Linked DNA regions of Homo sapiens: all the other regions are reported to be linked to region 1. The links are microRNA targets in miRTarBase. Many come from high-throughput screens and were not tested one by one. Region 1 holds a microRNA gene; each other region holds the end of a gene's coding sequence.
What was found. Region 1 holds the annotated microRNA hsa-miR-4659b-3p (UUUCUUCUUAGACAUGGCAGCU, at 1,711-1,732, shown strand). A microRNA usually pairs through its seed, bases 2 to 8, with sites in the 3' UTR of a target mRNA and lowers its output. Matches are read on the target gene's strand: a 7mer-m8 pairs with bases 2 to 8, a 7mer-A1 pairs with bases 2 to 7 and ends in A, and an 8mer does both.

Region 2: the mRNA of ANKRD49 is a reported target of hsa-miR-4659b-3p. The part of its 3' UTR that is shown has no 7-base or 8-base seed match.
Region 3: the mRNA of ATP1B4 is a reported target of hsa-miR-4659b-3p. Seed matches in the 3' UTR shown: 7mer-A1 at 1,300-1,306.
Region 4: miRTarBase lists ARID4B as a target of hsa-miR-4659b-3p. Seed matches in the 3' UTR shown: 7mer-A1 at 432-438 and 7mer-A1 at 1,771-1,777.
Region 5: the mRNA of ITPRIPL2 is a reported target of hsa-miR-4659b-3p. Seed matches in the 3' UTR shown: 7mer-m8 at 761-767.
Region 6: the mRNA of PLCXD3 is a reported target of hsa-miR-4659b-3p. Seed matches in the 3' UTR shown: 7mer-A1 at 2,595-2,601 and 8mer at 2,447-2,454.
Region 7: the mRNA of ARFGEF3 is a reported target of hsa-miR-4659b-3p. Seed matches in the 3' UTR shown: 7mer-m8 at 3,113-3,119, 8mer at 2,674-2,681, 8mer at 2,496-2,503 and 8mer at 603-610.

Annotation. Positions count from the first base shown.
Region 1 is chr8:6,742,827-6,746,906 of GRCh38, reverse strand. MIR4659B (microRNA 4659b) reads left to right here and starts at 1,667; the gene lies at 1,667-1,739. All of the region lies in intron 5 of AGPAT5 (1-acylglycerol-3-phosphate O-acyltransferase 5), which reads right to left. It overlaps MIR4659A (microRNA 4659a), which reads right to left and starts at 1,743; the gene lies at 1,663-1,743. RefSeq lists enhancers at 401-450, 2,063-2,142, 2,173-2,452 and a silencer at 591-640.
Region 2 is chr11:94,497,962-94,502,041 of GRCh38, reverse strand. It overlaps ANKRD49 (ankyrin repeat domain 49), which reads right to left. Exons shown (of 3, transcript NM_017704.3): 3 at 2,464-3,971. The coding sequence ends at 3,510. It also overlaps a transcript of MRE11 not described here. Among named protein-coding and RNA genes, the nearest start is that of ANKRD49, 6.0 kb to the right of the region's middle.
Region 3 is chrX:120,378,923-120,383,002 of GRCh38, forward strand. ATP1B4 (ATPase Na+/K+ transporting family member beta 4) reads left to right here. Exons shown (of 8, transcript NM_001142447.3): 8 at 551-4,080. The coding sequence ends at 712. Among named protein-coding and RNA genes, the nearest start is that of ATP1B4, 19 kb to the left of the region's middle.
Region 4 is chr1:235,164,718-235,168,797 of GRCh38, reverse strand. ARID4B (AT-rich interaction domain 4B) reads left to right here. Exons shown (of 24, transcript NM_016374.6): 24 at 146-1,896. The coding sequence ends at 273. Among named protein-coding and RNA genes, the nearest start is that of RBM34, 5.5 kb to the right of the region's middle.
Region 5 is chr16:19,115,623-19,119,622 of GRCh38, forward strand. It overlaps ITPRIPL2 (ITPRIP like 2), which reads left to right. Exons shown (of 1, transcript NM_001034841.4): 1 at 1-4,000. The coding sequence ends at 447. Among named protein-coding and RNA genes, the nearest start is that of ITPRIPL2, 3.7 kb to the left of the region's middle.
Region 6 is chr5:41,310,083-41,314,162 of GRCh38, forward strand. PLCXD3 (phosphatidylinositol specific phospholipase C X domain containing 3) reads right to left here. Exons shown (of 3, transcript NM_001005473.3): 3 at 1-3,688. The coding sequence ends at 3,535. Among named protein-coding and RNA genes, the nearest start is that of C6, 99 kb to the left of the region's middle.
Region 7 is chr6:138,335,755-138,339,834 of GRCh38, reverse strand. It overlaps ARFGEF3 (ARFGEF family member 3), which reads right to left. Exons shown (of 34, transcript NM_020340.5): 34 at 1-3,540. The coding sequence ends at 3,349. Among named protein-coding and RNA genes, the nearest start is that of SMIM28, 40 kb to the left of the region's middle.

The sequences.
Region 1 (4,080 bases):
ATTTGTTCTTCTCTCCTTCCTATTACCTCCCTTTTCCTTGATTAAAATATTTACTGACAATTTAACAGAAAACAGTAGCTCTCAATAAGTGACATGAAAATAGACTATAAAAAACTAGTCTAGATTTTCTACTGGCCTCTCTGGAGGGAAAGTAGCTGAGTAAGGAAGAACAGCTATTACATGGTGGGACTGTCCCACACAAGAGGTTTTAAAATGCAGGGTGGTGTGGGAAAGACAAAGATTCCCACAAGCACGTATCTGACTTTAGTCCCCAGGGCAGGGGCAGTTAAATTGATTCACAAACTTGCAACAAAAATCTCAATCGCACACCAAGCTGGGAAGCATTTATTTGTCAGTTAAACTAGTTAACACTTCCTTCTTTGCTACTGGAGCTCATCCAACTTTATGAAGTCCAAAGTTTCAAAATATCACTCTGTGGTGTTCACTAAAACAACTAATTACTGGCATCCAAGTAAGTTAGTAAGGAAATAAAGACAGAAAGCTAGTATTTTTAAAACATAAAAGGAAATGAATTATCATGAATGTTTTAAAAAAATAGCTTTGTGACTAGGCTTCTGCTCCAGAACGCGTAGATAAAGCCACACCATAACTAGAAGGGGAATGGCCAAGAGGAAGACATGCAGAGCATGCCTGCGTGCACCCACCTGCCATGCAAAGATAAGTGGAAGAGCAGGAGGCAGGGAAACAAAGAGAACACGGAGCCGGGCGCGGTGGCACGTGTATGTCTGTAGTCCTAACTACTCAGGAGGACTGCTTTAGCCTGGAAGTTGGGGAGTGGGGGAGAGAAGGAAGAGAGGGAGGGAGAAGAATGCAGAAAGAAAAGAGAGAGAGGAGAGAAAGCAAGCAAGCAAGAGAGAACGAGTGAGGGAAGGAAGAAAGGGAGGGAGGGAAAGAAAAGAAGGAAGGGAGAGAGAGCGAAAGAAAGAAGGAAGAAAGAAGGGGGAGAGAGAACATGAGTTCAAATTGGGCATACTGAGGCTGAAGGAACAAAACATTCTAGAAGTAGTTGGAAATATGGTCTGTAAAATGGCAAGAATCAACCGAAGCTAAGCATGTGGAAACCATGGGAATGGATAACTGAAGTAATGGCAGTGGCTGAGAATAATAAAGGGCAGAAGATGAAAAGGCAAGAAATACAGACTCCGGAAACATCCACATTAAAAAAAAAAAGGTAAAAATAATAACAGGGAATACGACAACCCAGGAAATAAAAAAAGGGGGGAAACCAATGTAATACAAAAACAAAGGGAAGAGATGTTTAAAGGAAGAGGAGGTGATATTTATCTTCAACAAGAAAAATTATACTCCATTGTTTATTTCTACAATAAAGTTAAAATTATTTCCTGGTTATAAAGGTATAAATAATGTCAAAAGTTATGTGAAAGTTAACAAATATGACAACTGACACAAATGATACGATGCTTTGGAGGTCAGTGGTTAAGTGAGAAGTGGGATTCATTTCTGGAGAGTGGATGGAGTCAAACACAAGAAAGCAAGGGGCCCAGACTTCTCTTTGCACAGCTATAGACTTAGTTATTTCAGAATTGGAGTACATTTGCAAGCTGGGAGAAACCCCTGCAGAGAAGTAAGGCAGATGACTGAGGCAACGATGGAGACAGGGTAGACGGAATCAAGAGCTTAGAAACTGTTGACGTTGCCATGTCTAAGAAGAAAATTTTTCTCCAAAGTTTTCTTCTTAGACATGGCAGCTTCAGCAGTTTCTTCCAAAGAAATCCAAGTCAAGAGACTCCACATTAAGATTTTGAAATCAAAAGGGATATTGGGTGCACTCTTTCCAGAGAAATATAACTTTCTGAAAGCAAAAAATCCTTGAATGTGAAGAGAACAAAAATCCGTGAAAACCATGAGGTAGTCAAAAGGAGAAAAATAAAAGAACTGCTCCACACAGACTTGGCTCGGCTGAAATGAAATGGCCTGGCTTGGCTGCAGAAGGCAGTCAGCATTGATCTTACGATGTTCTCCACTGCTAAGGAAGGGAGAAAACAAACAGGGTTGCCAAGGGCTGAGGAAAGGCAGGGCAGGAACAGAACAGCCCAGCACTGGGATGGGCAGACCCCGGGGCTGGGGCAGACAAGAGCTGCAGAAGGCCCTGCAAGCTGCAGAAGGGCCAAGGAAAGAGAGATTAGAAATCAGCCAAAAACACAGGTTTAGAGCGAGTGAGGAGGAGGGAGAACCAGAGTCAGCTATATGGTGTGGGCGAGCCAGTGCCATTTCCAGATGAACTTCAAGGTGGTAAAAGCAGAGCACTGGACCCAGCACAGGACCTCGAACCAAGCACAGGATCCCAGACCAAGCACAGGACCCCGAACCAAGCACAGGACCCCGTACAGGAGAACAAGATCCCCCCAAGCCTCCACAAAGGACTGCAGCCCTGCCAACACCTTGATTTCAGCTGAGTAAGACCCATTTCAGACTTCTCAAATGTAAGAGAAGAAATCTGTGGTGTTTTAAGCCACCAAGTTTGTGGCCCTGCCTGAGAGCAGCCACAGGGAGCAAACACACCTTCTTAAGAGCGAGAGTGCCGTTACCACACAAAGCTGAGCACTAGCTTTCTTGTTTGCTATGCTTTCTCAGAAGTTGGCTTCAAAGTATTCATTTAATTTCTACTTCTTTGATTATGAGAAAGAATAAACATTTGTTCAAGTGTGTGGGTCATTTGTATCTCTTGAATTTCTTATTCATGCCCTTTTCCCATTTTTCTAGTTTATGTCTTTTCTAATTATGAAGCACTTTTGTAATATTAAGTATATTAATATCCTATATTATAAAATATTATTAGCTTGCCATTTGCCAACTAAATTTGTTCATATGATGTTTGAGACATAAAAATAATTTTTATTCAGTTAAGTCTACAAAGAAAAAAATTGCTTTGTAGCTTATTCCCTTTGTTCTCCTGTTTTGAAAGAACTCTCAAATCTCTACAATCGCCAGTGTTATTCACCCTATGAATAACATGGAAATTCTAGGTATCTGGTTTGCCATTATAGACACATCATTAAATTTCTGTTTTCTTTTAAGAGAGTTCAAAAAGCTTAAGTATGTCACCTTCGCTAGCAACTATGGTTTTAACCATGGCAATTAAAAAAAAAAAACCACCATAGGGGCTTACTTTAATGGGTCCAGGTGGCAGATTAAGATACATTTAATTCCACATCCCTTATAACCATTAGAAAGCCAAATACCTAAAACAAGTCTAAGGAAAATTAGTTAAAACAAAACCCTTCGAACAGCTGAGAAAAGTTTAAATATTACCACAGTGCCTGCACTTCTGCAGGACCCCATCTGAACAGCTTCTTCCTCCATGTCTAAGTTTCCTATAAGAGGTATGCAACTGCTATCAATTTGTTCTTTTTGTGAATAAAACTTAGGCAAAAAAACTGAATGATGGAGTTACCAAGACAAGAAATATGAGTGTATGCATGGAAGGATAAATTCTATCTTCAATATGCTGAGTTTGAGACATCCTTTTGGGCCAGTCAAGCGAAGCTCTCTAATGGACAATTGTACAAATGGGTCCAGAGTTAGGCAGAGAGACATGGAGGGGAGGAAGCTTTTGCGAGTCATCAGCAGTCAAGGAAACGATGGCTAAAGCCATGGATTTAGAGGAAGGCCACCATGAGAAACAAAAAGTGAAATTAATCAAACACCAAAACCTGACACTGGAAATAACACATGTAGCAGGGAGAAATGAAGCAGAAAGAGGCTGGAAAGGAGGCTAGGAAGTAATCGCCAGAGAGTTGGGAGGATAATGGAGAACAGCCCCACAGAAGTCTAGGGAGAGAATTTCAAATCAGACCAAAACAAATTGAGGGCAGAGTGAGTACTGGAAAAAGTGCTTACAACAAAGGTAGACTACAGATTCGAGAGTGGTTTTTGTTTTGTTCTGTTTAATAAATGTGAAAAGGGCAAAAGAGACAATGGCATTGCAAAAGAGCAACTGAAATGACAGAACGTCATGTCTATTAGACAGAGGAAGCAATGAAAGTCAAAAGAGAGCTGGCAGATGGGGAGACCAACTGAACCCTCCTATTCTGAAAC
Region 2 (4,080 bases), not on the chromosome of region 1:
TGGTGTACCACATCTTATATATATATAAGAACTTTCATGAAGATCAGATGAGACTATTTCATTCATAAAAGATGACTGGAGGACATTGATAAACACATAGCTTTTTAAAAAAACAATATGATTTCGATGTATTTCATATTGATATTTATTTTTAAAGTATTAAAGAAATTGACAAAATAAATAACACCATATGATTTTTACATTTAAATAACAAACTAGCCTACAACAAGATAGATATTATCCCTGATTTACCTATGAGAAAACCGAGGGGTTTTTTTTTTTGCCCAAAGTGACCCACAGGTGGCACTGAGGATTTGAACTCAGTTTGTCTCACTCAGAGTTTAATGCTCTGTGTAACCATCCTTCTGTGCCTCCAGGGAATGATTTCAGGCATGTAGATCTGTGCTTTCAATGGAGTAGCCATTAGACAAACATAGCTGAGAACTTGAAATGTGACTAAATCCAGATGTGCTGTAAAATACACCCTGTATTTTGAAGACTTACTGCAAAAAAAAGTAAAACATCTCAAAAAATTTTAAATATATATCTCATATTTTGGATGTATTGTCATATATATATAAAATTAATTTCACCTGTTTTTAATATGGCTCTTACGATTTTCAACTGCTAGGATTTTTGCTTATCTATGTTTGTGTGCCATAAAATGCAATTCTGTCCTTATTGCATGAGTCCTCTTATATGAGGTATCTAAAATAGTCATGCTAAAAACATAAAATTACATGAGGCCCATGTTTCTATGTGTTGGCACTGATTTAGATCATTTCCACTTAGGTTCTGAGAAGTAAAATTTTGGAGTTTCCAAGGGAAATTTCCAGGAATTTAAAACATCAATCAGCTACACTTAATCCTTCTTGGTTTACTCTCTTCTGAACTTAATAAAGATAGACCTTAAATATCCTTTAGAGAAAGCATTTCATATTGAACAAATTGAGTGGTCATCTAGTAATCCTACAGATGGACTGGAGCATCTTATGATAAACTAATTATAGCAAAGACATAATGATTTGGTGATATTATTTTGTAGGCAGTTGCATAAATTCCTAGAGCCATTGCAGGTAGGGTGAAGATGGTGTATGTGTTGATCAGGAATCAAGAGTTGATCCAGAGATTTCATTTTGGTATGGGACATAAATCTCAGTATAGTCTCTGGGCTTCTTCTGATCATGATTTTCCAGCATAGTGTTAGATAACATAATAGATGTCAAATAATACAAATAAATGTCTTCAGATTGTAGTATAAAGACTCTAAATCCCACCACTGTGGTAGGCTGTGGGTTGGAAGGCTCCCTGGAAAAGCATATTTAAGATTCATAAAAGCAAAGGCAACTAGTTCCACTTTAGGCCTAAGAATGACGCTATGAATCTTGAACAGTCACAAAAATTACCTCTTCCTCAAGCATATGTTAATCAAAATTAAACCCTTAGTTATGAAAAACTCAGATTTTATTTTTTAATAAGTCTTTGTATAGACTTTCCAAGATTAGAGAAAATTCTGTTTGTAAACTGAGCTATTTAGCCGGCCTAAACTGGAAAGTAGAAGTAATCCTTTCAAAGCACGATTAGTGACTGCCTTCTGTGCACAGAGCAGTCTAGTGAATGCTCTGGAAAGTATAAAGGAAGCAGACAATACAAATTCTGCCCTCAGGGGTGGGATTTGTCTTATGTGTAGAGTTTGCTCTCTAGCATCAGTGAGTGAGTGTTGAGGTCTGAAAACAAGGGAATAGACACATCTTAGGTCCTTATTGGAAACAAGACTTCTTTGGCTCCATACTTTAATGGAAAGTTTACATGGAATCATGGGTACAATCCATTCTCAAGTGAGAAAGGAGCCATCAGCTCTGTGACTTTCAGGCTAAGCAACCTCATTCAGCAGTCTGCTTGGATAAATAAGGTCTTATTCTATCATCACTGCCTGTCAGCTGTATCTGTCATTTGGTGCCACTAACTTAGGCCAGATTAAACAGAAAGCAACCTCTGCCACAAAGCATCTCCCTAGGAAGAGATCACAACATAAACTAAAGCACTAACTCTCAAGATCCTGTTGTCACGATGATTCAGTTCATATATTATCTCTGACTTTTCTGAGATGATCTAATAAGTTCTAAGCAAAAATAAATATTTAATCTTTGATTAAATAACATTATTACTTAGTCTAGGGTGACTGGGTTACGTAGGATGGCTTGAAAGAGATAAGCCTTGGTGGACATCTTAAAAATTTAACTGAAGTAAAGAGCAACTGGTTTAGTTCCCTTCCCCTGGAGTGTTGTGGTGTTGAGAAGACAAAACTTTGGGAACAATCACAGGGGGGCTAGATAGACAATGCAAAATTGCTGCTGGAGAGACTGAGTGAGTAGATGTTAAATAACTAAGTGCGTGCTGGATGAATAATGTTCTGGATCCAAGAAAGACATACACAGGTAAAAAATGAATTCATGCCTTTTGTGTTGTTCAAAACTTGTACTTTATTTTTCTCAAATATTTTTACTTATGCTTTTTGTCATTATCCACAGTGTTTTTTTTTTAAAGCCTGAGCCACTTTGTGGTTTTAGCCTCAATATAATAATCATCCCCTTACTCTTAGACTAATTCCTTTTCCCCTGTCACTTTGCCTGTATACTCTGTAAAAATGAGGACCTTAGAAAATCAACATTTCCTGTGAACTTGAGAGACTATACAAGCAGTGCCCAAATCAGTAGGATTAGGCAGGTAAAACCAGTTGGATAGCAGATATATTATGATCTGTTGGACAAAGGTATAGTTGTGTGCATGTCTACAAGGTCATCGTGATTCGCCATTAGCTTAAGGATCATGTAGGTTGACCAGGGTGAGGTAGGACTATCCACAGGATTGTGTAAATTGTGGTAGGGGATGCAGTATACAATATTCATGAATTAAACACTTAGCTAACTGCTTTCCTGAAAATGGTCTGTGTTCTAAAAGACAAAGATCTAGGTTTTTTGCTGTTTTTTACTTTAACTTATGAAGATTCAAGTCACTAATATGTTACTTGCTCTGGTTTAAAATGAAAGCAACTGGCTATGGTAAGGTAGAGAAGACAGCTGAATTGTATCAGAATATTTAAGACTTTTAAATTAAGTTCTGAGTTACCTCACCTTATAAAAATATATGTCAATATACTAAATACCCAACAAAGATCCAGGATGTGGGATATTTAAAAATACATTTCTCTTGTATCAGCACCAAAAATACCAGTTTCTGTACAACCCGTGTCAAGTTTTTAAGTATACACACATTAAAATTATTTCTGATAAAAAAATCACAAACTCCACAGAAATAATTAAAGATATATGCAAATTACTTTCAAATACATTTTGACATCAAAGTCAGGCAATTCACTTGGAAGAATGTTATAATGAATGTCACTGAATTTTTGTAGTAAGATGTTTGACGTCAACTTTGATTATGGGAATACATCTCACACACAGGAGGCACTGGTATTTAGAAACTTAGGAAAATTACTAGAATTGTTAAGACTGAGGTGAAGAATTTGTACAGCCTTCCACAATTTCAAAGAGGTAGTGATAGATACTTGTCCTCCTGGCAATATCAAATGCAGTTTCTTCCAAGTTGTTTTTCAGCCCTGGTTTGACGTAACGGTTCATCAGGAGGAGTTCTAGGGTATCCTTGCTGTCTCTGTTCCCAGCAGCAAGATGCAAGGGGGTCAAGAGGCCTTTTGTTTGGGCATTGATATCTGCATCATGCTGCAGTAAGAAAGAAGCCACTCTGGTATTATTCCACTTACAAGCACTGTGCAGGGGCGTCCAGCCATCCACAGTCACTGCATGAACATCGGCCCCCTGTGCAATGAGCTCCTGAACAATATCTAAGTGTCCACTGTAGGCTGCTCGATGAAGAGGGGTATACTCATCTTCATCCCTAGTGTTCACGTGAGTGGCCTTTTCAGAAAGGAGTCTCCGCACTGTGGTAAGCTGAGAAGAAAAAAAAGAAATCTTTCAACTCAACTCAAACCAAAACAATAACTAAAACAAAATTGTCTTGTGGTGTTAGATTTAATTAAGTTGAATAAAAACTTACTTG
Region 3 (4,080 bases), not on the chromosome of region 1:
ATCACAACCACACTCCTTTCCATATCTGAAAGAATCTCATATATGGCCTAATTTAACCTTTTAAGTTTACGAATGGGAAAATTGGGGTTCAGAGACAGAAAGTGACTTGCCCAAGACCATACAGCTAAGTTAGTGGCAGGGTCAGGAGCAGATAAATTACTACCAATGTGCTTAAACATGCCCTAATAATCACGCTTCTGTTTCTCCCATTTGAAGCGCTGGGGTGAGTCCCCAACACAGGGACTCGATAGACACTAGTTTTGGTTTAATTCATGGTCTGATTTCCAGAAAAATCATATCATGCTGAATCAGAATTGGTTTTTCCCAGAGGACAATCAGATATCTGACAGTGACTTGTTAGAGAAATGTATGATTTTCCCACACTTTCCCACTGCAAGGAGAGTATGTCTGTTGCTTTGGCCATTTGCAAATTGGCATCATGGGATTTACTCAGTTCTCTTTGTGAGGGTTGTCATCCTGCAGTGATTATCTGATCACTTCCCTCCTACCACCTCCCCACACTTAGAATTCATTTTTCTTCTACCTGCAGGTTAACTACACATCCCCCTTGGTGGCAATGCACTTTACAGACGTGGTGAAGAACCAAGCAGTGCCTGTGCAGTGCCAACTGAAGGGCAAAGGCGTCATAAATGATGTCATCAATGATCGTTTTGTGGGCAGGGTAATCTTTACCCTGAACATAGAAACTTAAGAACTTCAGGGGGCCATTCTTACCAGTTCTGTTTCTGTTTTATCTCATGGTATCTCTGGTAGCACCTGAATTCTTTTTCTTCAATTAGGACACAGCCAGATGGACATCTAAGACAGCCGATCATCTTTCCTTGCCTATGACATGTGTATAAAATGACATTGTGGGAGCTGTTCGATTTTTTAAAGGTAGTGTCTCCTGATGACAAACAGAGTATATTAATTTCCTTTCCCTCCACTTAAAACTAAAGCCTGTTCTTGCTGCTGGTAATCTCCCTGTAGCGTAAACATAGTATCTGATAAAATTTACAATAGCCACGCAATAGCCATCAAGGAGAATTTCTATTATGATTATAAATTCATCATGTTTTCTAAAATTCTGTTGGTTTTAGAGGTCAGATTCCTCCCAACCAGGCTAATAACCTAACACATGTTTAAAAAAAATCTGCCTAAGCCGGGTGTGGTGGCATGCATCTGTAGTCCCACCTATTCAGGAGATTAAGGCAGGAGGATCACTTGAGCCCAGGAGGTCAAGGCTGCAGTGAGCTGCACTGCATTCCAGCCTGGGTGACAGAGTGAGATCCTGTCTCTGAAGAAAAAAAAAACCTGCCTGGCAAGGTCCTTCCCTGGGAATCACCACTCGGTCCAACCTAGACAACCAAGACCGCTATACCTAAAGACCTCTATATCCTGGTGCCTAAGAAACTTCTGCCTCCCACAGACAACTAAGTGCTTATTCAAAGACTAGGTTATTTTCAACTGGGAAAAAAGCAGTGCTAACAGGATATTGTTCTGGGATAGAGATGAAGACCGTCCTTGTGACTTTTTAAAGAGGTGGGGCTCACTGCAACTGGGGAGAACACTTAGCATATGGATATGATTGGTGTTTGATTCCTTGCTCTCTGGTGTAATCGTCTAAAGGCAAACATTCCTGCAAACAGGTTTTTCTCAGCTTCAGGCAGAGGAGACAACATGGAAGAAGATTCCCACCAGCTAATTCTTCTTGGGCTATTTGTTTGACAGTAGCATGATGTTTTTTGAGACCATCAGGGGTGGTTACATAGACCAGCAGCTACAGCTCTGGAAATTGAAATCATAATCTGTCAATGAATACATGACAAGACAGAACGTTCCTTGCCAGGCCAGGCAAAAGCCAAGGCCCATTAGCCAGTTTAGCATTTACTTTAAAAATGACATGAGGCAGATTCTTATCCAGGATGTGGATCAGCCAGGTCACTTTGTCTTATCTTTGGTCACCTGATCACTCAACTGCTTCTTAACACCTCCACCAGGGGGAAGGCTGGCACAAGGAGAAAAAAAAAGCAAGCATCAGCGAATAGTATAGTGTCTCAGGGTCCGAAGCAAGTTTAAATGCCACCTAGGAGGATCCAAAGTCTGAATCTCCTCTACAATGTTTCCTTTCTCCCAAAACAGGGAACTGACTGTCTGGTAGTGAAGACAAGCAAGTGGAGAAGTTATACGATATAGTTTAATGAGAGTTAAAAAACTAGTATGTGGAAAGCTATGGGAATATGAGGAAAAATATCTTGAGCTAAGAAAGTAGCAGAGGAAATTTCACATGCAAAGCCACAGTCATGAAGAGACCATGGTGTGTCTGGGTAACTGTGAGCAGTTTATGTAACTGGAATGAAAAGGGCTCAGAGGAATGGCAGGGATGGCAAGAGATCCAGCTAGAGAGGTATTCAGGGATGGAAAGAGGACTTTGAGTTTTATCCAATAGGTGAAAATGAGTAATTAAAGCATTTTAATCAGGGAGGCTCTGTGATCACATTTGTGTTTTATTTTATTTTACTTTATTATTTATTTGTTTATTTTTGAGATGGAGTTTCGCTGTTGTCACCCAGGCTGGAGTGCAGTGGTGTGATCTCGGCTCACTGCAACCTCCACCTCCCGGATTCAAGTGATTCTCCAGCCTCAGCCTCCTGAGTAGCTGGGATTACAGGCACACACCACCATGCCCAGCTAACTTTTGTATTTTTGGCGGAGACAGGGTTTCACCATGTTGGCCAGGCTGGTCTCGAACTCCTGACCTCAAGTGATCCGCCTGCCTCAGCCTCCCACAGTGCTGGGATTACAGGCGTGAGCCACCGCACCCGGCTTGCAATTTAGAAAGGGCACTTGGCAACCACTATGTGAAGGGTGATTGGAGAAGGACAAGACTGTGGAATGGGGAATAAGGAAGGAGGAGTTTGGAGAATGACTCCAAAGGTTTGAGCTTGGCTAGAACCGGTAAGATGGTGACATTGTTGATCAAGACTGGGAATATAAGAGAGAAGCAGGTTTGGAGAGATCAATTTTGAACATTTTAGACATGATTTTCTATTGGTCAGACATTGATGTGGAGATGTAAACACATGTAGGGTTGGTGAGAAGGAAAGATGAGAACAAAAGCAACATTGGGTTAAGGGAACTCGCTTAAGAAATTTTAAGCTATTTAATCTTGGGAACTGAAGCCAGTCATGTAAACATACTATACCAATCTAGTCCCTAACAGTGTTTTTTCTCTTGTGGCAGAAAGAATTGCTGTTCCTCTTTGGAATCTCCTTCCCAGACACCTTCAAAGTCTTATTGACACAGTAAAGGGAGGCCAACCACTACTAACAAGTTCTAGAAGATATAGGATCTTCTATAGTAGGTTAATGGAAAATACAAAAACAAACAAACATACAATGAAACTGCCTCCTCTCAACCCATTTTCTTAACAAATTCAATTTTCAAAACTAACCTTTAAAAAGAAAAGGAACAAAATGAAAAAGACAATAACTTTTAAACCACTTGAAAATTACCTCAATCAAACTCTCAAGATTCAGTAGTAAAAGATAATAGAATGTTAGATCTGGAAAGGATATTAGAGAGTGTTTAGAAAAAACAACTTGCATTGCATCTGACTCCAGGTCCAGTGCTCTTTCTACTCTGAGCTGCTGCTTACCAGAAAGTACCATCTTCTTAAAAATCAATGAATGATATCCCAAACATTTTGAAACGTATGTAAATTTTGAGTTAAAATAGTTAACATTTCACAGGAATTCAACTACTGGTGCTATACTTTATACATAATACATTATCCTGTTAAATGCATTGACTATTAGACAAGGAATTATGAATCATTTGTCAAATAATATTTATCTTTCAATGGAATCCATTGTGTCCACAATTGCAAAGCAATATTGAAGGGTACTAAGATAGTTTGGGTTGTCAGCTAGGACATGAAAAATGTAGGTTTACTATACAGAACTGGATATGATAATATATTCATTAAAGTTATGTTCTAACTGTTCAATAGACTTCTAGTAGATTAATTTAAATAGTTCCCCATACCGTGCTGCATCAGGATTTGATTTGTATGCCATC
Region 4 (4,080 bases), not on the chromosome of region 1:
GAACTGTGAGAATTGACCACTGTTGTTGTAAGCTAAATGATTTTGGACAATATAGCGGAATTTTAGTTCAGAGGACTAGTATTTTCTGTCTATTGTTAGACATAAATTTTTATTAAGCTCTTGGTTTGGTCTCCCTTTTCCTTAGGTGCTGCTACATCCTCATCCTCCTCTTCACCTTCATCCAGTTCCATAACAGCTGCTGTTATGTTAACTTTAGCTGAACCGTCAATGTCCAGCGCATCACAAAATGGAATGTCAGTTGAGTGCAGGTGACAGCAGGACTTGCTAAAGCACTTTGCACTTAATGGCTGTTGAGGGCCACTTTTTTTTTATACTGCACAGTGGCACAAAAAAATATCAGACAAGCACTATTTTATATTTAAAAATTGTTTCTTGACAAGCTGACTTGGCACTTAAGTGCACTTTTTTATGAAGAAAAAGTACAATGAACTGCTTTTCCTCAAGCAATAATTGTTTCCAACTTGTCTGGGAATTGTGTGTCTGGTAACTGGAAGGCCTTCCACTGTGGCAAATGGAGGCTTTTCACTGCCTGTAGAGACAATACAGTAAGCATAGTTAAGGGGTGGGTCAGAACATGTTAAGATAACTTACTGTATATGTATTCCCTTGTATTTTGTTAAAGCTGGAACATTTGATATTTTTCCATTTATTTATGAAAAAATATGAACCTATTTTCATTTGTACAAGGTAATTGTTTTTTAAAGCAAGTCACCTTAGGGTGGCTTTAATTGTATAAGTCAAGCACATGTAATAAATTCAAAACCTGCAGTTAACAGGATATTAGACATCAATCCTGGTAACCAAATATTAAAGATTCTCTTTAAAAAAGACTGAACATGTTTACAGGTTTGAATTAGGCTAAAAGGTCTTGCAGTGGCTTTTCATGGCCCTTCAAATTGGAATGGAACTACTGTACTTTGCCATTTTTCTATAAATCAGTATTTTTTTTTAATTTTGATATACATTGTGTGAAAAAAGAAAATGGCTAATAAACTGTATTAAATCTTAAACAATGTATAAAGATTGTACTTAGCCAGTTCAAAGTGTATATTTATTCATAATGAATTATAACAGTTATATTTTTGTGTTTTCTTGTAAATGTTTCTTTTCCCTTAAATACAGATAATTCATTTGTATTGCTTATTTTATTATGAGCTACAACAAAAGGACTTCAGGAACAAGTAATGTATTAGTATGGTTCAAGATTGTTGATAGGAACTGTCTCAAAAGGATGGTGGTTATTTTAAATATAAATAGCTAATGGGGGTGGTAGGCCTATAAAATTAAATGCCTTGTATAAAATCCAAAATGAATGCAAAATTGTTTTCACTTGTATTGACTTTATGTTGTATGATTCCAATCTCTGTTCTGTTTGGCACTTGTATTTAATTCTTCACCTTTGTAAGACATTTGTATATTGTGGATGTGTTCATTCAAGCTATTTAATATCTGGCACTGTTAATACACAGTACTTTATTGTACAGACTGTTTTACTGTTTTAATTGTAGTTCTGTGTACTTTTTTTGGATGGGGCTGGCATGTTTTCTTTGTTTCCTGGCAATACGACGTGGGAATTTCAATGCGTTTTGTTGTAGATGCTAACGTGTCAGAATCCTTTACATTCAACTTTTCTAAGAAAAGCATTTTCAGTCTTGTAGTGTGTGCTTACAGTAACTAATTTTGTTGAAAATGGTTTCAAGTTATTCAAATTTGTACAGGACTGTAAAGATTTGTTGACAGCAAAATGTTGAAGAAAAAAGCTTATAGAATAAAAGCTATAAAGTATATATTAGGATCTGCAAACAATGAAGAATTATGTAATATATTGTACAAATGTAAGCAAAGGCTCTGAAATAAAATGCCATAGTTTGTGAATCCTTGATTTTTGTTTCTAAAAGATTTAGTAATTTTAGTTCATTTCTGTATGTGATGACTGACTGGAACATACATATCCAGCACGTATTATCACAGGGGATTAATTGATACACAAAAAAAGGAAGATTCTACCTATGAAAATTAAAAGTCCATTAATCAGATAAGGAATGTATTAGGCATTCTTTTTTTTTTTTTTTTTTTTGGACACGGAGTCTTGCTCTGTCACCCAGGCTAGAGTGCAGTGGCGCAATCTCCAGCTCACTGCAACCTCTATCTCCCGGGTTCAAGCAATTCTCCAGCTTCAGCCTTCCGAGTAGCTGGGATTATAGACATCTGCCAGCACTCCTGGCTAATTTTTGTATTTTTAGCAGAGACGGGGTTTCACCGTACTGGTCAGGCTGGTCTCAAACTCCTGACCTCATGTGATCCACCCACCTTGGCCTCCCAATGTGCTGGGATTACAGGCGGGAGCCAACACACCCAGCCTAGGCATTCTTTTATCTTTGCACACACTATTTTGCTTGAGTCTGAATTTAAATATTTTTCTTATCACTTGAAGAATTGTCCAAATTTGAAAATTAAGTGTTTTTTTTAAAATTTATTTAACACTTGAAACCATTACCAGCGGCTTTTTAAAATTTTTAATTTAGTTAGACCTTTCCGGGTCTTTTATACTTCAGTGTGTTCTATTGCACATTGCAATCATCTGGACATTGTTAAAAGTATATTCAGTACTCACACCCCACTCCCAAGGAGTTATATTTAATTGGTTGGGGGTAGTACCTGGATGTTGATCTTTAATTTTTAAAGGTCTCTAGTGATATTAATATGCATCTGGGTTGAGAAACACTGCTTTGCCGCAAACTTCTAAAAATCTATAATCTAGTTTTTTGGCCCCACTTATTGGACTTTCTACCAACAGAAAACCTTTCTTGGCTGGGCGCAGTGGCTCAACGCCTGTAATCCTAGCACTTTGGGAGGCCGAGGCAGGCGGATCACGAGGTCAAGAGATCGAGACCATCCTGGCCAACATGGGGAAACCGTATCTCTACTAAATATACAAAAAAAAAATTAGCCAAGCGTGGTAGTGGGCGCCTGTAGTCCCAGCTACTCGAGAGGTTGAGGCAGGAGAATGGCATGAACCTGGGGGGCGGAGCTTGCAGTAAGCCGAGATCGTGCCACTGCACTCCAGCCTGGGCAACAGAGCGAGACTCCGCCTCAAAAAAAAGAAAACCTTTCTTTAATACAGAGAGAGGCCGGGCGTGGTGGCTTAATGCCTGTAATCCCAGCACTTTGGGAGGTTGAGGTGGGTGGATCACCTGAGGTCAGGAGTTCGAAACCAGCCTGACCAACATGGTGAAACCCTGTCTCTACTAAAAATGCAAAATTAGCCGGTCATGGTGGCGCATGCCTGTAATCCCAGCTACTAGGGAGGCTGAGGCAGGAGAATCGCTTGAACCTGGGAGGCGGAGGTTGCAGTGAGCCAAGATTGCACTCCAGCCTGGGAAACAAGATTGAAACTCCGTCTCAAAAAAAAACAAAAACAAAAACAAAAACGAGAAAGGAAATCAACTTTTTTAAGGCCTAGAAAGCTTAAATACATATTTTTTAAAGCATCTTTGTGGTGGCCCTTTATTTTCACAAAAATTAGTTTAAGGGATGATATTTTAAATCTGTGGAACGGTGCTTCCCAAAATGAATTCCTAGAATACTGGTCCCTGGAAATGCTCTGGGAATTTATAACCAAATATATTTTGGAAAATCTATGTATAGCACATTCTTAGAGAATCACAGTGTTTGCATATTAAAAACTTTGAGAAGGCCTGTGAAGAGATACCTGCCTAATAACTTCCTTTACCCTACTGTTTTCAATCCCACCTAATCATGAAACCCTGTTTTTTGAGGAGCTCTTAATATCACATACTGAGTATGTTATAGAAACAGTGCTGAATAGGGGAATTATTCCAAATTTTGGTGGAGTCGAGATTTATGACTTTGTGCCTCTCTGTCTCGCCTGCCTTCTTGTTCTACGTCCTACCTTCTTAAGAGGGTTTGAGGATTTTATTGAATTAGTAGAATTGACCTATGTCTACTTCTGGTCACCTAAACTAGACTTTACTAAGTTAGTTTACAATTGACATATTAAGATGGTATGTTTTTCTTTTCTTTTTTTTCTTTTTTTGA
Region 5 (4,000 bases), not on the chromosome of region 1:
CGTGGGCTGGACTCAGCGGCCGCCACCCAGTGGGGACGCATCCTATCCTCATATGTGCTCAAGACAGTGCTGCTGGCAGTGCTGCTGCGCAAGGGGGCCCCTGGGCAAGGCTGGGACGAGGAGCACCTGGGAAGGTGTTTGGAGGAGTTGGTGCAGTTCCTTAGGGACTGCCTGCTGCGACGCCATACGCTCTTCCACTGCGTCCTGGGCCCTGGTGGGGCGGCTGCCGAGGTGGGTCCCCTGCCCAAGGCACTGAGGGAAGCCGCCCCAGTTGACCTCCTGGCCGCTTTCGACGGGCACGCCCGGGAACTTGCAGCAGCGCGGTTGCTGTCCACGTGGCAAAGGCTGCCCCAGCTTCTCCGGGCCTACGGGGGTCCCCGCTACCTTGCCAGGTGCCCCCCACCCCGGAGTCAGCGCACCCAGGGCTTCCTTGAAGGTGAACCGTAAACCCTGACAGCACCCCCACCTGACCAAATGCTCCTAAAGCCTTTCCCACTGGGTGGGGGTGGGAATGGCGGTGAAGCCAGTTAAATGCAAGATTGCAGAAGGCATTGGAAAATTTGGTGGCTGCCACAAGCTTTAGTGGCTTAAATATCACCTTCTCGCTTCACAGTCCAGTATAATATGACATCTTCACACCCACTAGAGTGTCCTGGGCAAACCATGGGAAGACATCCAACAGGAGACCCAAGAATTGGTTCAAATATTGTTCTGTGTAGACGGATTCTGTAGAAGGATGTGGCTTTTAGAGAAGTCCAGTAGAAGAAGCAAGAACTAGCTGCAGGGAAAGTTCCTTCTGTCGGTTTTTAGACACAGATCTCTCTGCCCAAATTAAAAAAAAACAAAACAAAACACTAAAGTTTTTGACACAATTACTTGCTAGGTACTGGGTTCCTGATTGTCTTTAAAAAGAAAAATCTGAATCTTTATTTGCAACTGGAATTGAAGTTCTATTTTAGGGGCTAATGTTTAGAGGAACATAATTTCCACTGTTCAAATTAATATTAATGTATTTTTAAAATGGTGCAATCACAGGTGTTTGACAAGATTGTCAACAAGTTAAGTCACATAGATGGAAAGGCAATCGAGAGTTGGTTAGAGAAGCTTCCAGAGAAAATAGCACTTTATATTGATCAATTCACTCATTTTGTGGTAATTGCTAGCACCAAGCATTGCATCTGAAAGGGAAGCCAGTTATATTTATTATTAAATGTACAACCTTGAAAAGCAGCCAGCATGCTTGCCTAACTAACATCGCCGCAGGCCACAAGCTGGGATATGTACCTGTCCGTCAACATCCATTCATTAAACTACCTACTACCAGCCAGAGATGTCTGGAACCAAAGTAGCAACCAAATACATATTCAAGACAACACTGGTGAAGGCATAAAACATGTTGGCTTTGGAGAAAGATGTGTTTTAGGCTTTGCCTGTAAAGGTGTTTCTCCAAGGCTGGCTGCTGGCTGGAGACAGAAAACTTTTTTGTTTTAAGGTTTTTAGCAAACTCCTTCACAAAGAGATTTCTTTCTGAGCTTAATGAGCTAATGAAGAGGAAATGCCTGCTGCTTAGCATGTGGTTTGTGCTGGGTCTCTAACCATTGATGGTTCTTCCTTGTCCAGGCAGTCTTACGTGGTCCAAGAGACCTGTTGATTCAGCACAGGTCTTGCAAAACATTTCACTTATAGTTCAGTATCTTGGGCTCTGTGCTTGAAGATCAGTTACTCCCTGGTCGTGGGCAGAGGAGACAAATTAGGAAAAGAGCAAGGGAGACAGCCCTTGACGGCAGTCTGTCTCTTTTCTCTTTAGGTGTCAGTATCACCAGGTTGGGTGTATTTTGCAGCTGGGAGGAGCCGGTCCTGGAATTCTTCCTTGTTCTCCCAAATTTATAACAGTCCTCAATTGCAGTTTAAGTTCAGCATGGCCCCTCATCTGCTTGCCTGATTGGAAATGCAGCCAGTCCAAGTGTTACAAATTGGGATTTTTTTGTTTTCTAAATAAAAACATGTACTTCCTCAGACTCTTAAAGCTAAAATTTGGAAGACAGAAATGCCTATGTGAATAGAATCATTGTTGAAGTTCTGAGCTCTTTTGAGGGAACTCTATAAGCCTTCTTTCTTTAGGGGATCCACTTGCCTGCTGTGGGAAATCATAGTGAGTGATTTACAGGAATCCTTCTCCTCCAAGCTGCATTGGCTTCTTATATCCTTTGCGACCTTGGGCTGAAAGAGAAACAGCTGCAAATGTTGTGCTGTCTCTTTGAGGTTGTCTTGGGGACAGTTCCCCGCAAAGGTCATTCCTAGCTTTTGAGGTCAATGTTGGGTCATAAGGTACTGCATTGTGCAAAGAAGTCAGTCTGCTAACTTTATGCAAAGATAGAAACTGCACGGTATTTTTTAAAATTAGTTTTTAAAATAAATGCCAAGAGTAGATCTTATATATATATATATGTATACATATTTTATATATATATATATTTCCATACTCAACCACAACTTCCTCTGTACTCATTGTTTACTACAGTGGGGGACATCAAGGGTTGGAAGGATTATAAAGCTTTAAGGCTGGGCGTGGTGGCTCACGCCTGTAATCCCAGCACTTTGGGAGGCGAGGTGGGCGGATCACCTGAGGTCAGGAGTTCAAGACCAGCCTAGCCAACATAGTGAAACTCTGTCTCTACTAAAAAATACAAAAATTAGCTGGGCGTGGTGGCGGGCGCCTGTAATCCCAGATACTCGGGAGGCTAAGGCAGGAGAATCACTTGAACCCGGGAGGTGAAGGTTGCAGAGAGCCAAGATCACACCACTGCACTCCAGCCTGGGTGACCGAGCGAGACTCCGTCTCAAAAAAAAAAAAAAAAAGCTTTAAAAAGCTGAATTTTAGAAATATTTCTAGCAGTGTCAGTGAGTTCCTCTTTTAATAGTGTTTTAAAGTATAAATCTGGTAACATACTGTTCTTGTAGTTTTTTGTTAGTTTTGTTTTTCAGGTTAATTACCCAAAGCCTCATCCATCCTCAAGGTTTTTAAATTTTATTTTTTTAAAATAAATTGTGCATTGTATTTGTGAATTTTTAAAATATTACTGTTTTATTTAAATGCCATGCTGAGCAATTGTTCTCTGTACATGGTAACCAAAACTTAGAGATTTCGATCAATTTTGATCAATGTTTAGTAAACCAAAACATGTACTGTGTACAACGGAAATAATATGGCATATTAGCCAGGCATGATGGTTGCCCAAGACAGTTAAATTAAGCTCAATTCTGTATTTTATTAGGGCTCTGTTATGTCCTTCATCTGAAATGTACACATTTTTGGTGTATGCTTGGTACTGGAGATTCATATATGCAAATATTCTCATGCAAGAAGTTCCACAGTAACAACAGCAAAAAGAAAAAATTAGTTGTCCAGCCAGTGCTGGAGGAAAATGTTTCTGGGGAAGATGACTCAGTCATTTTGTGGCGAGACACCCTTTGGTAACTCCCACTGACCAGTCTTGGGAGCCTTCCTGGAATGATCGTGGGCTGAGCGGAGATGTTTTTTGCAAAATGAAACTGAAGCTGAAAGAAAGGAGAATTCGAGTGAACCAAGAGAAATCCAAAGACCTGGGGAAGGAGGACTTAAGATGAAAGTGAAGCAAGAGAGGGAAGGGGAAATGAAGTGAAAATGGCGTGAGGGTGTGAGAGAGGTTTGGGTTAGGAAACATGTTTTTAGTGCTATTTCCAACCAGGGGTCGCAAACTCAGCAGCCTGTAGAAACAGGGGTGGGAGGTGGGGGGGAAGCTGTGCCCACCTTTAAAGAGGGGGCCATTGCTCAGCCATGCAGAAAAAAATGGGGCAACAAGCTGGAAATCAGGTTTTTTTTTTTTAAAGTGAAACTTGATGATTTTTAAACAAGTAATTAAAAAAATGTCCAAAACACCATGTGGGCCAAACATTTGTTTGAGCCTGGGGGCCACCAGTTTGCGACCACTGCCTTACGTAGTTAACACCCTGAGTATGT
Region 6 (4,080 bases), not on the chromosome of region 1:
TGTTAGGTGGCACTCCATGAAAAGTAAGTTTTCCCAGTATGGCTGAAAGTCAATATTGAGGTCATCATATAGAATATCCTAAGGCTTTTAAAAGATGCCTCCTCATTCTCTGCATTTACATTATTGTGTGGTAAATAGGGAGACATAAATGATAATGGCAGAAGAAAAATTTGCTATATTAGTCCTTGAAAATTACAGACAGGAAATCAAACTTAAAAATGATCTCTTTGCATATTTTCTCTCATTCCACCCACTCCTTTGATTTCCTGCTGTAGATTGGGTAAAAGTTAGATTGTATTTGTTTGGTTGTTTTGTTTTGTTTTGTTTTTTTGCCTCACAGGACTTGTGAAATAGTCTTAAGAAACAAGTAAAACAAAAAGTGCACCAAGGTGTATCTACCACCATCTTGGCGCCCATGTGTAGCCCTTGTGCTACAAGCTCTCTGAAAAGACAATGCCCAGCTGAGACAAATGTGCATAGGCTAAGGATAAGCTTCGATTGCATATCACCATTTTTTACTTTTGGAAGGCCCGCAGCCTGCTTCCCCAGTGTGCTCCAGGGCAGAACTAATGGATAGAAGACAGTCAAAGGCACCTTCTCTCCATTCCCCTTTCCAAGGACTCCCTTTTAGTAAACTCCCCCTCTAGCTGGAGGACCCATGGTTCCCTTCTACCTCTTCCCTCCTTTATAAATTAAGGCAAGTCCATTTACTCTAAGTGCCTGCTACATAGGCACTGTATGTCCACATGGAAACCATAGCATTGGCTTGAAACTGCCTTTTGTCTAACAAGGTTTCTGGGTGCATATCATTAGCAGCAGTACAAAGCTTTCCCTAGTTAAAAAACTGCACAATTATTCAAAAGCTTCATCATGTTTGTTTTTTTCCAGAACCCAGTTGACAAATAGGACAAAGTTAATTCTAAGCAAACACTATGAGAAAGTATCTAGGTTCAAGAAAATACAACATAGTTACCTCTATATTTTATTCATGATATGATGAAAAATCTGTTTTCCATTATATTTATAAAATTAAATTCATGTGTCATTGCAAATATTCTTGGCTAAGATCCTCCTGAAGGATGAATGAATAGCCAGTTAGAGAGAAAGTCTGCCCAAAAACCAAATTTACGGGACATACATTTCAATAATCCTAATCATTTTAAAAGGATTCATATACATTTTCACATAAAGAGCAGGTGTAAAAGACAGAAAGATAATAAAACTACAAGGGAAGGGAAAATGGAAAGAAGAGAAGAAATATATTTTAAAAATAATTAAGTCCTACACTAGAATTCTTTTACAAAAATACTTTGATGTGATCATCTACTCTACTTTCAAAGGTTTTATTACTCTTTTTCACACAATATTAAGGGTTTCAGTCTTAAAATTAAATTATTTAATATTATCAATGTCTTCATTTGAAAAGAAGAATTGTACTGTGTCCATATCTGTGTGTGTTTCTGTATGTTTGAATTTGTATGCTATCACAGGAATGGGCATATGTTTGTATATTGTATATGGCAAGATGTATACACACAACCCAAATGTATACACACATTTTTGTGTGTACATGTATGCTATTTGGTATACCACAGGTACATACACACTCCTCATAAACATTCTCTTCAGTATAAACAATTTCTTTTCCTCCCTTTAATTGCTAATAAGTACTATTTTCTGATCATGAGTATTTATAATCTTGAAATCAACTCTTGATTATTTGTGGTCTTGACATATATGGTTTTGAATTGAACTCCCTTATCTAAGTCTAAGAGATTAAGCCATATGTGCTACATTTAAGTTCATTAAAAGCTGAGGGCATGCTTTTATTTCTCTATGACCCTACTTTGCATGGACTGTATTATCCTAGGAAACTATTGGGGTGTGATTATTTCTAAACATGAAAATAAAATAATTAATAATTGTAAGAATTTCATCAAATTTTATAATTTTATAAACACCTCACAATATTCCTGTGAAGTACATAGGCAAGGATTATTGTGCTCTAAGTTTTTTTTTTTTATTTTTTAGAGTTGTCAAATATCACAATGACACGAAGGAGGAAGTAACGCTCAAGCTGTGTCATTGTTCTTCCCTGTAGACCCGGACTATTAAACGTTAGGTTGCAGAAACTTTGTGTGAAACTTTTGCCTCTGCCTTAATCTCATCCCTCGGATAGGATGAAACTCAGAAGTGAGGAGTCAGAGCCAATTTTAAACAAGTCCATTCAGACCTCATAAATTTCAAGTTTCCTAAAGATATTTCAGAGATCCCTGTGATTTCATGGACATAATTTCAAACACATTGCTCTAACTGCTTCTACCAGCCTTCCTCTTTCTTTCCTTCAAGTCAAAAACTTGCAGTTTCTTGAAAAATCTTCCTTAAAATCTGGAATTTAGAATTAAATATTTGAAAATCCCAAATTGGCAGGAAAGCTTGCAGTCTTTTTCTTCTTCCTTCCTCTCTTCCTCCCTCCCTCCCTCTCTTCCTCCCTCCCTCCCTCTCTTCCTTCCTTCCTTCCTCCCTTCCTTCCTTCCTCCCGTCCTTCCTTCTGTCCTTCCCTCCCTTCTTCCCTCCCTTCCTCCCTCCCTTCCTTTCTTCCTTTCCTTCCTTCCTTCCTTCCTTCCTTCCTTCCTTCCTTCCTTCCTTCCTTCTGTCTTTTTCTTTCATCAAGAGCATCATTAAGAGGGCTTTTTAAAGAGTTATTTTCAGAGTTTTCAATTTTAACACACTTGTACCTTACCATTTACTGGGTACTTGCAGGGCAATATTATTTAAGAGATTGCCAAATTAAAATGCCATACATCTCTTTCACCCCTCAACCATTTTTCCCTCTGAAATTGGCATTCACAGCTCTCCAAAAACATTTTTCTCCTATATTTATAGCTGCCTTAAATAGAAATACTGTGAAACACTATTATTTTCATATAACAAAAATCACTGATTATGACCTTCAATATTACTGATGCATGGAAACTGATTTGATGCAGATTTTCTATGACCAAAAATTAGCTATGATTGCCCAACTGTGGATGACTATAGAGCATTATAACAAGTCCCACAAAACTAGTAAGTTTTAAGACAACAATGTAATACACAAAATGTTGGGCATTCAATTGTTTTGATTCCCATACAGCATCTGATTAAAAAGAGCGAGCAAGAGAGGGAGCAGAAAGGTTGCAGGGTATAGACAGCGTAGGAGTCATAGGCTGGAAATAGAGAACCTAATCAAGTAAACACTCATGAATTCTATGTTACAAAGACTAATTTTGAAAAACAAAGTTACTGGTCTTTTTTTTTTATTCCTAACACTAGAAGTAGATTTTGCTCATCAAATGGGAAATGAAATATTTATAGTAATGAAGAGTATGATTGTAATCACTGAAGAAACAGTTTTTCCCCTTTTCCCACCCACTACCAGCCCTATTCCCTTCAGAGACTCAGTGGAATAGGAAGATCAGAGTGTTTACAGATAGTATGCCCTAATACAATGAGCTTTCTCCATCTTATTCATGGAAACTCCAAGTAGTGCTATCAAGTGTTGGCTTCTCCTTCATCAAAGACATAGTTGAGCTTTATGACAGTGCTGATAAAGTCACCAAGTTCTACAAAATCGGCAGTGACAATATTGATGCCACTCTCTCCTGGCTTCTGCGTGCGGACCCACTGCATCATGGCAGGAAGAGCTCTGAGAAAGGAAACAAAAAGAAAAGTCACAGAAGGCAAGATACTATTTTTCAAGCTCTACAATTCTCAGTCTTCCCTTTAGTTTCTAGCTTATTAAAATAAATGTTTCACGTATAGGTACAGGAAGGGGAAAAGGCCAAATGGACTCTGGGGATTTTTTAACCTTTGAAGAAACTCTGCAGGAGAAATATTCACTATATTGATCCGTATTGGAGTTCTCATCTCGGCAGATCCCAGATACTGTGATAGTTTATAATGATGCTTCCCTACTAAGAAAACAACATTTTTGCATTTGTATTCTGATTTAACATGGTGTCATCACAAACCCTGCAAAACTACGGATTGGGGAGGTCAGAGATGAATACATGCACTTAGCAAACATTTATTATGAAC
Region 7 (4,080 bases), not on the chromosome of region 1:
AAGGCTGGAAAATTACCACAAGGGGAGAGAGAGAAGGTGGTGTAAAAAGGCAGCCTAACTAACTATTTTTAAAAGCAGATCAGGAGATACAGGAGCTAGGTGAGATGCTGTGGACAGTGCATGAGGTTCAATTGTGAAAACCGATGTCCTCATTAATGACAGAGAGAACTCTGTCCCTCCATATACTTGGCTGGGCCATCATCAGTCCAGGGTCTCTTATACTTGGAGTTTTCCAGATGTTTGTTTCATGAAGCACACTTTACCAAAATTTAGGAAAAGAAGAGAAAGATCTCAACTTTAAGGTAATATACTTTTGGCTATAAATACAGGCAACTAAAAACAATGTATAAACTCTCATTCTGCTTAGGTCTGTAAATACATGCTAATAACTGTTCGTAACTTTAAAAGGCTGCCTTGAATTTTGTCTTACTGTTGCTGCAAAAGAGACTGTGAGGAGAGAAACACCTGACACTTTCAGAGACTGGGAGGGAGGGAAACAAAGTTGGGGGAGTGGGCAGCTGAGTCACAGGAACAGGGCAAGAGACTGAGCTGGGCAGCCTGGGAAGGTGCCACTCCCCTCTCAGTGTTCTTCATCTCCTCCCTTTCTTCTCCACCTGCTGGGAAGAACCACCTGAATGCCTACTCATTAGAGACTACTTTGCATCAAGCTGCAAATACCTCTGAGAAGTACTGCTGTCACTCAGTGATGGTTCTGGTTGAAATCTGATGTCAGTGTGGATGGCTGGTAACTCGAGTGCAGAGTATGTTAGGACTGAGTTATAGAGAAGACAATGGGAAGGTACCAAAACACTCTTAAAAAATTGTAGGTCAAGAGCTCTGTACACCTACTCATCCTTTTATTCTTGGGACCCATAATCAGGCTAGAACTAGAACAGTGTTTGGACACAGTACAGGGTAAACTTATGTTCAAGAATTTTGGATCCCATAATAGAGCATCGGGGAGAATGCTGATTTCCAAACAAACAACTAACATACTTTGGGATACAGTATTCACTTTTTTTTTTTTTTTTTTTTAGATGGAGTTTCACTCTTGTCACCCAGTCTGGAGTGCAATGGTGCAATCTTGGCTCACTGCAACGTCCGCCTCCTGGGTTCGAGCGATTCTCCTGTCTCGGCCTCCTAAGTAGCTGGGATTACAGGTGCATCCTACCACACCTGGCTAATTTTTGTATTTTTAGTAGAGACGAGGTTTCACCATGTTGTCCAGCCTGGTCTCAAACTCCTGACCGCAGGTTATCTGCCCACCTTGGCCTCCCAAAGTAAGTGCTGGGATTACAGGCGTGAGCCACCGTGCCCAGCTGGTATTCTCAAATTGAGACAGCTTCCTTTGAATTTTTCTACTTTATGAAAAGTTGCTATGTATAAATACTGTAATTCTAGCCTCTGCTTTACTGAAGCCTTTTCCCCCAGTAAACTGTGGAGTACTCACAGGTTCACAAAGAAGAACTGAACCTCAGGTAAGCTATAAAAAGAAACAAAGCAACTGTGGTGTTACTTCTGTTGGAAAATTTAAAAAAAGCAGTTATCCAACTTTCAATTCCATTTATAAAATGTAAAAATTCAAAAGTATACAACATAGTTCACTGATATCCCAACAATTCATTGCCTTTTAAGATCAAATAGCTGATTACCTGTTTCTAAACTTGAATTATTGTCTAGTGAGTAAAAACTGAAGGCAAACAGAGTGTTTTGTGGAACTGGGAAAAAAATGGATTCTGTGGTGATCTCTAGATGGTACACTGGATGATAAGGGTGTTTTTTTCAGATCACCTAAAGAAGTCAGAACACTGCCTTCCTCTTAACCTCTAAGGTAGTTCCATATTTCTCAAGGAGGGCAAAGTTTACAAATACCCCTTTAAATCCTTATTTCAATACTGTAGAATTTGTGTCTTATATTTAAAGGGTGACTTATTCATTATGAATGGGGCTGGGAGATTATAATGTATGCCTTAAATAACTCTGTAGAATGTGTGTAAGTAAGCTTGATTGAGGAGTTTTCAATCATTAGGATAATGTAAGAAATATAAAAATACTGTAAATAATAAGATAAAGCTTTCAAACGTATTTTCTAGTAATACTTAGAAATATCCACCTGAAATATTGGTCTGAATGCAAAGACATCAAACATAGGGTAACTTTACTTGGTAGATAGGAGAAATATTTTAAATCGACAAAATTTTCTAAATTTCAGTGTCTTTCTCCATTACTTTCATTTTGAGACTAGAGCTTGTGTAACTGACACCATAATTTTGCAAGATTGTTGTATTATATTTTAAGATTGAAAATGATTTCATCATAATCCATCCCCACCCCACACTCCCTGCTCCCTTCCCTGAGTCCCTTTCCTCCAAGCGTGTTGATATAAAATGAGTTGCGTCTTAATGTTTTGTTTTCTTAAAAACCAAATGCTATACCTTATGTTCAGACAATTGTGGGGCATGGAAATGGAAGTGCAACAAAGGACTAAGGCACCTTTTCTTCTTTCCTTTCCTTTCCTTGTTTGCCTTGGGGATGGAAACAAACACCACAAGAACAGCCAGGGTGGCTGGTCGGTCTTATGTCTCTTGACAATCTACGTACCAGCCACTTTCACTGGGTACTCTGTGTCACAGGCTGATAAGCCACAGACTTCAAACCCTGCTAGGAAAGAACTTTCTTCTTTTAGAAATACAGAAATAAAGGTACAACACAGTACCTTACATGGGGAAATTGGTGAATACCTGAAAATCTTAATGATTTAGGAATAATTTTGAAGTGTTCTGGATTATTTTACAACAGAAGTCACCTCTTTCTTGATTATGACACCCAAGAATATGTATTTATAGTTGTCTTCTTCCCAGCCAGACCCATAACCATAAATCTTCCTCCAATTAATAATCCCTGGTACTAGATGTCTGAGTGTTTATCAGCTTGACTTACCAGCAGATATTGCCTTAGGAATTGTATTTATTTTTTAAATGATGGATCAAATGGATCAATATAGTGTTTTCAAATGAGTAATCCTTGAAAATGACCCATTTGGGGACAACACTGTAAGCAAAAGCACTGGGAAATATACTTCAAGAGTTAGAAACATATCAAGGATTATAGATTCTTCTATAATAATGTGCAAAATCAGAATATCGTTTGTGTCATCTAGATACAAACCTTAGTATGGCCCCAATGCTGATCAGTGGTTGGAAAGGCTTTTTACATTAGGAAACACTGTTCTCTGAGACAGTAGTAGTAGTTTAAGTGGGGCTAGTGGTGGGGAAAATGCAACAGCTGTATTGGCAGGACTCTAACCCTCACTACTGTTATTTGGTGGGAGAGTAGAACAGGAGTCGGCTACACAATGATGTCATAGACACGGCCCACCCTGCCCAGCCACTCCCTCACAGCCTGGCGAACTCTGATGTCGGTCACGTGACAGGTCAGCTGACTGATGCACGGGAACACTGCGGGCTGGAGGGCCGTGAAGGTCTGGTCTGGGAGAATCTGAATCTGATTGAGAACTGTTAGCACCATGTTGGTCCATGCCTAAGAGAAAAGATTTAAGAAAATCAGTGGCTTTCCCCCCTGGTTTTATTTGAACACTTGAGAGTGGCCCTGCCAATGTGGAAATGGTTTTTTTCCAGGCTTTAGTTGCAATAAATTAGTTTTCACTCATTTAATATGCCTATAATAAATTGTAGGCGTATTAATTTATTATGCCTACATCATAACTTCACATACATAAAGATGGGCAGAGACTCGCCTTATTTTCAGCTTTCACAAACTACTAAACTCTTACTTATTCCTTAGATTTAAAAACAACAACAACAACAAACCTCCCTTGCCTTCTCACAGTGAGATCTCCACAGGCCGTTAATCTCAAACTCATTTTTTGATGCACCATAGAATTACACTCAAAGCCTCCCTGAAGAATGAGAATTTTTATGTGCACAGGATGGGCTAGAAAAACTTGAGATGAAAACAATTTGAAAAAAATTCATTGGCATAACCACACAATATTTACTTTGCTTTTTTCTTTTATATAATGCTTCATAACTACAGAATTTCTTCAGGGCCATTTTCGAA